Linked DNA regions of Homo sapiens. The protein of the gene in region 1 purifies or fractionates together with the protein of each later gene. This does not show direct contact. Each region holds a gene or a part of one and is shown on either strand. Other genes may lie near its edges.

Region 1 (3,500 bases):
AGCCATCTATAGAAGTTCTGAGTGGCCATTTATGGGTTCTGCAAAGTTACAGGGGAGCCAAATGAGTAGATAATTAGAGAAAACCAGAAAATAGGTGAGAGTGAAGTAGACTGATAGAAAGAAGCAAAGGAACTACAAGAAGGAGAGATAATTTACAGTTCTAGTTCTCCCCAGACCTGGCTCTATCTTCACTTTCTGTTACTGAATTCCCCTACTGTGGCTTTACTATAAACCTGCTTGCTTAGGCTAGCTTGAATGGGTCTTGTTTCTTGAGACCAAATGCCTTAACCCAAATAGTCCTCATATGTTAGATATGCAGGTTTAGCCTTTAAAAAAATTGCCGTTTAGATGGAACCCAGGTACACCCAGTTGAACTAACAAGGTCATAAACCTTCTCTTTGCTTTTAAACCCCATTCCGTGCTTTGGAGCTGATTCCTGCCAGTGAGCTGGAAGAATCAAAATCATAATCTCTTGAAGTGATACCTTTCCTTAGTGCTAGGTGGGAAATCTTTCCAATGCCAAGCAGTTTTTGCTCTGATTGAACTTACCTGATGATGTTCCAGCTGCATCTTGTTCTGTTTCATGATATTCTCTTTTTCCAATAGCTCTTTCTGTTGCCTCTCAAACTCCTCCTTACCCTGTTAATTTTCAACATAAAGAACATATTATGTCATCACTGTGATTCACTTATGCTAACAATTTCATTGACGGATGAGTAAATACTCTTTATTTTCCACTGCCTTGGCAACATCTCAAATGCCCAGTGAGGCACTGTGAACCCTAGACGACAGGGGTGGCAGAAAAATAAAGCCCATTGCCATATAGGGTGCCAGCTTTCTGGGGCACCTTAAAATTTTCGGAGAGCTACTCATGATTCCCTTCAAATCTCATATATAATGTTCTTTTTATAGTCTCTGGGTTCTTTTCTCATAGATTATATGTGAACCTGTAAACCCCCAAATGCAGGTCTAAATGTGGTCCACCTCTCACTTCTAGTTCCCTCAAATCATCTATAGATTTCTGCTCCAAGGCAGTAGTTCCCACTGTGCAGGGTCAGACAACCAGTAAGATGAATGTTCAATGCCTCCATCCTCTCTCTCTCCACTTCCTTCCTCAGCATCAGGTGGGGCTCAGTTCTCCTTGCCACACTTTCTTGCGCTTGAGGGAATTTGGCATAATAGTTACGTAGTTCTCAGTATAATCTGTGACTCTCAGTCAAATTAAAAGAATGGCAGAATAAGATAGTAAGCCTAGTCCTAAACAATGGATCTTGGTAGATTTTTTTTTTTTTTTCTGAGACAGAGTCTCGCTCTGTCGCCCAGGCTGGAGTCCAGTGGCACGATCTTAGCTCACTGCAACCTCCGCCTCCCAGGTTCAAGTGATTCTTCTGCCTCGGCCTCCCAAGTAGCTGGGACTACAGGCGTGCATCACCATGCCTGGCTAATTTTCGTACTTTTAGTAGAGATGGGGTTTCACCATATTGGCCAGGCTGGTCTTGAACTCCTGACCTTGTGATCCACCTGCTTCAGCCTCCCAAAGTGCTGGGATTACAGGCGTGAGCCACTGCGCCCAGCCAGTAGAATGTTTTAATCCCTCAAAGTGGAAGGGAAAGCTGTCGGAATCCCAGGTCAACTTGGAGCTTGGTAGAATTCCCAATTGTAGGAGGCCAACTGTGACTATCCAATGTCCCATACACAGATTAAGCTCCTAGGACAGCTAGCTAATGCCCAGTGGTCCTCTAGGTAAGTCTGAGATGGGGCTAAGTTTTAAAGCAATTATACACACACATACACAGAGTAGGGCTAGCAGGGGCCTTAGAAATTCTCTGGTGCAAAGGTCTTCTATTCTTTTTCTTAATGACGAAAACTTTTTTTTCAAATAAAATATTGCATGGAACTATACATAAAACACAAATAGAAGTGGAGCTGGTATTATTATTAGAGGGCCTATTATCCTACTTGGTGAGTCTCCTCTTACCTGAGGTATATCAACGGGATCTAATCCAACCCCTTACCCCATTCATTTTGCAAATGAGGAAATTAAGGCCCAAGGAGGTTGAATAAGTTGGTCACACAGTAAACGTCAGAGAAAGGGCTAGATCTGAGTGAGTACTCAGGACTCTCAGCCCAGCGTTCTTACTACTCTACGACACTCCCTCCAATTTGTGAACCATGTAGATTAACATTAATTATGTTCTCTCCTTTGGCAGTCCAACCCGACATCCTTATAGGCATCTTTCTCAGGCTCCCTGCATGTGAGTGAGTGTAGGTGTTTTATGAGTTCCGCTGTTTTACCTGTAGGTGGACGTAATCGTAGTCATCCATCCAGCTCCTCTCAGAACCATCACTGCTGCTACAGTCAGGGGCCTGCTCCTTGCTCAGGCCTGGGGGCAGTGCCTTGTTGTGGGCCTGGGCCTTGTGGTCACCAGGATGCAGCAGCTGTCCCTGGGAGCCACCGTGTGGGTACTCCGTTGAGTTCATGATGCTCTCCGGCCCATTCTTCAGATGCAAGCTGCCAGGGCCGGGTCTGAAGAGGGCCTCTGCGTTGGTGTTGATGGTTGTGGTGAGCTGCTTGGCGTCATCGGGCACCGTCTTTGCCACCATCACAAACCGGTCCAGATCGTCACACTTGTTCTGGGGCTTGTTGATGGCCAAGATATTCAGGGACCAGCTGCACTCATTTAAGTCATGGCTGGTTTGACTCAGGATCTGGTGGGAGTCTTCAACTCGTTGCAGCTCCCGCTTCATCTTGTTGTGGAGGATGAGTTCCGGGAGGCAGGCAGCATTTGCAACAGCTCCCTTGACAAAGTGGAGGTACTCCTTCAGGAACAGCTCCACCTTGTCCACTGCTGTGCGTATTTCATTGATGTGTCTTTCCATATATCCGTAACACCGCCAGTCGGTAGTGACCAGTGCCATTAGGCTGGAGACACCCATCTCAAGGGCCTGCTGGAGCCGCTGAAGTCTCTCAATAGCTGTGTCTGGATCCAGGAAGAGCCTTTTGTCCTGAGCTGGGGAGGCTGACAGTGAGGACTCCTTGGAGGAGGTGGAAGACGTGGACATGTTACTCCGGGTGCTGCCTGTACTGGAGAAAGACAATCGGTTGATCCCATCCACCAAGTCCCGAGAGCCTTTAGCATCTGGCGGGTTATGCAGAGGGACATCATAAACACCATCCCTTTCCTGGGGGTTTGCTTTCTCACTGGTTTCTGCTGGTGGCTCAAGAAACTGAACGCCTCGGGGGACATCATATGCGTCGTTCTGAGAGCCCACTGACTGTCCGAGTTGCGGGGGTGGGTGATTCGGGGACAGGCTCTGGTGCCTTCGAGCCACCGGTTCTGCAGCTCCTGGAATGTCACAGTTGTATTTTACATGAAGGTCCTTCCCTGCTGGCTTGGTGCAGGTTGGAGGAATGTCATAAACCCCCTCCGGTCTGAGGTCCGGCCTTCCAGCTTGTCTCATGGGAGGGGGGAAGTCATAGTCTTTTTCCCTAAGCCCTG
Region 2 (3,500 bases), on another chromosome or scaffold:
AAAAAAAAAAAAAAAAAAGGCCTGGCATGATGGCTCATGCTTATAATCCCAGCACTTTGGGAGGCCAAGGTGAGAGGATCATGTGAGGCCAGAGTTCAAGACCAGCCTGGCCAACGTGGTGAAACCCCATCTCTACTAAAAATATAAAAATTAGCCAGGCATGGTAGCGGGCACCTGTAATCCCAGCTACTTGGGAGGCTGAAGCAGGAGAATTGCTTGAACCCGGGAGGCAGAGGTGCAGTGAGCTGAGATTGTTGCCACTGCACTCCAGCCTGCCTGGGCGTTGGAGCAAGATTCTTTCTCAAAAACAAACAAACAACAACCCCTCTTGATTTCACAGACCCCTCCCACAGCTGCCCCAATGTTCTGTTCTTCCTTAGAACAAGATTCTTTCAAAAAGTTATCTATACTAGGCCGGGCACAGTGGCTCACGCCTGTAAACCCAGCACTTTGGGAGGCCAAGATGGGCGGGTCACTTGAGGTCAGGAATTCGAGACCAGCCTCGCCAACATGGTGAAACCCCGTCTCTACTGAAAGTATAAAAATTAGCCTGGCATGGTGGTGCATGCCTGTAATCCCAGCTACTCAAGGAGGTTGATGCGGGAGAATTGCTTGAACCTGGGAGATGGAGGTTGCAGTGAGCCAAGATCGCACCACTGCACTCCAGCTTGGGTGACAGAATGAGACTCTGACTCAAAAAAACAACAAAAAAATTATCTATGCTTGCTGTTTCTGGTTCACAGGAGGATTATTTCTAATAGTAAATATTGGAAATAACCCAAACATGCAAGAATAAGGTGAGTAGGTTGACAAAAATCAACAGAATGCTATTTAGACACTAAAATGTATGGAGGCCAGGTGCGGTGGCTCACGCCTATAATCCCAGCACTTTGGGAGGCTGAACTCACTTAAGGACAGTAGTTCAAGACTAGCCTGGGCAACATGGTGAAACCCGGTCTCTACAAAAAATACAAAAACTAGCTGGGTGTGGTGGTATGTGCCTGTAGTTCCAGCTACTCGGGAGGCTGATGTGGGAGGATGAGGCTGCAGTAAGCTATGATCTTGCTACTGCACTCCAGCCTAGGTGACAGAGCAAGATATTATCTCAAAAAAATAAATAAAACATAGAAAGTTTTCATGAAAAATGCATGATACAGTAAAACAAGCCCAATAATATACAACAGCCACATACATGTCATGATCTTAACTTTGTAAAAAAATACATAAACAAAACAATGACTATAAAGAGCAGCATCTCATGTCACCTGCACAGACTGCTACTGGGCTCACATACCTGCTCCTCAGATTTGACATTCAGCTCATCCCGAGACACCAGCTCAAGCACGTCTTCCAAGGGCAGGGCCAGGAACTCTTCTGACATGGACACCTCCACAAAGTGCTGGTGGATGAAGCTGTTGGCAGCGTCGTACAGCACAGCACACATCATTGTCTCAGCAAACTGGCGCACACCCAGGCAGTTTTTTGGGTGAAGCCTTTGGCATAAGGAAAGAAAAAAAAAATTAGAGGAAGAAAGGATGTTATCTTTGATCATTCTCAGGCTGGTTCTGGGTAGAGCCACAGAATGAAAACAAATTCTTAACCTCAGCTTTGTTGGAAACTGTATTTCTCTGGGACTCAACTTCTAAAGGTATAAAATTAAGAAGAAAGATTATCCTCAAAGGTCCCTGCCTTTTGGGCCTGGTGCTCTGTGCGTCAGGTGGAATGAGCTCTCTGGGTAGTTCTGTAAAGTAACTGTCAGAAGGTGAGAAGTAACCATCACAGGAGTGCAGGCACTGAAAATCTGTTTGAGACGTTCCACCACTGAAATTCCTGGTTGAGTGTCCAGGGCATTATCTCAACTTTGGTCACAAGGAAGGCACTGAAGTCACAGAATTAGAGTTTAAAAAACACAGACAGGGCTGGACACGGTGGCTCACGCCTGTAATCCCAGCACTTTGGGAGGCTGAGGCAGGCAGATCACGAGGTCACGAGATCAAGACCATCCTGGCTGACACGGTGAAACCCCGTCTCTACTAAAAATACAAAAAATTAGCCGGGTGTGGTGGCGGGCGCCTGTAGTCCCAGCTACTTGGGAGGCTGAGGCAGGAGAATGCTGTGAACCCAGGAGGCGGAGCTTGCAGTGAGCCGAGACTGCGCCACTGCACTCCAGCCTGGGCGACAGAGCAAGACTCCGTCTCAAAACAAAAAACAAAAAACAAACAAAACAACAACAAAAAAAACACAACACGGACAGATGGCTTCTTTAGTATGGGAACTCTTATACTTGTCTTTTTTTTTCCTTTTTTTTCTTTTTTGAGACAGGGTCTCACTTTGTCCCCCAGGCTGGAGTGCAGTAGCGTGAACACGGCTCACATCACCCTTGACTTCCTGGGCTCAAGCGATCCTCCTGCCTCAGCCCTGCAAGTAGCTGGGACTACAGGTGCCACCATGCCTGGCTAATTTTTGTACTTTTTGTGGTAGAGACAGGGATTCACCATGTTGTCCAGGCAGGTTTGAACTCCTGAACTCCAGCAACCCACCTGCCTCGGCCTCCCAAAATGCTGAGATTTTTTCTTGTTTTAGATAGAAAGAGACTCCACGGGCCTAATTGTTCAGACAAGCAGAAACAACAGCAGCAGCTATCATTTATTTACCATCAGTGAGTCAAGTGTTTTGCTAGGCCTTTTATACACATTCTCCAGAATCTTCTTAACCTGTAAAGTAGTAACGCACTCACAGATGGAAAACAGGCTCAGGGAAACCAAAAATGGTGCTCACAGTCCCTTGAGATAAGCAAGTGGTGGTGCTGAGATTGAAATCAGGACTCTTGTGCACATTCCCACGGTAGCCTGGCAGACTTACACTCATCAGGGCTAGAGAAACCCAGGATAAATCCTGGCCCTGATGCTCATGGGGCAACTTGGGTGGGTTATGTTCTTCCAAGTGTCAGTAATTTGCTCACCTGAAAGAAGATGATGACAACAGCTACCCACCTCTTAGGGCTGAGCCATGATACATGGTACCTGGTATGAAGTTAATGGCTGTCTTAATTTTTTATTATGGTTGTTTTTGTTTTTTGAGACAAGGTCTTATTCTGTCACCTAGGCTGTAGTGTAGTGGTGCAATTATGGCTCATGATAGCCTTGACCTCTTGAGCTCAAGTGATCCTCCTACCTCAACCTGCCAAGTAGCTGAAACCACACACCTAGCTAATTAAAAAAAAAAAAAAAAAGTGTTTTTTGGTAGAGAAAGCATCTCCCTATGTTGCCCAGACTGGTCTCAAACTCCTAGGCTCGAGCAATCCTCCTGCCTTGGCCTCCCAAAGTGCTGGGATTACAGGCATGAGCCACTGTGCCCAGCTTGTTTTTCTTACTACTGTTGCATCTAAGAAAATTCCAAACGAGCCCAGTGCGATTCTAAAATCTTGGTGACAGCAGCAGACCCTGGGGGATTCTTATTTGGCTCCATGACTGATTCTCTGTAGGGATGGTATTGATCAG

The links. The genes of interacting proteins can lie anywhere in the genome.
Region 2: the proteins of NEDD9 (region 1) and KLHL18 purify together in Homo sapiens (affinity purification with mass spectrometry; one large-scale study listed by BioGRID and IntAct). This does not show direct contact.

The regions. Positions count from the first base shown.
Region 1 is NC_000006.12:11,187,669-11,191,168, forward strand, and holds part of NEDD9 (enhancer of filamentation 1), read right to left. Parts: coding exon 2,296-3,500; intron 640-2,295; coding exon 550-639; intron 1-549. UniProt on the Homo sapiens protein: Scaffolding protein which plays a central coordinating role for tyrosine-kinase-based signaling related to cell adhesion. As a focal adhesion protein, plays a role in embryonic fibroblast migration.
Region 2 is NC_000003.12:47,327,944-47,331,443, reverse strand, and holds part of KLHL18 (kelch-like protein 18), read right to left. Parts: intron 1,494-3,500; coding exon 1,295-1,493; intron 1-1,294. UniProt on the Homo sapiens protein: Substrate-specific adapter of a BCR (BTB-CUL3-RBX1) E3 ubiquitin-protein ligase complex required for mitotic progression and cytokinesis.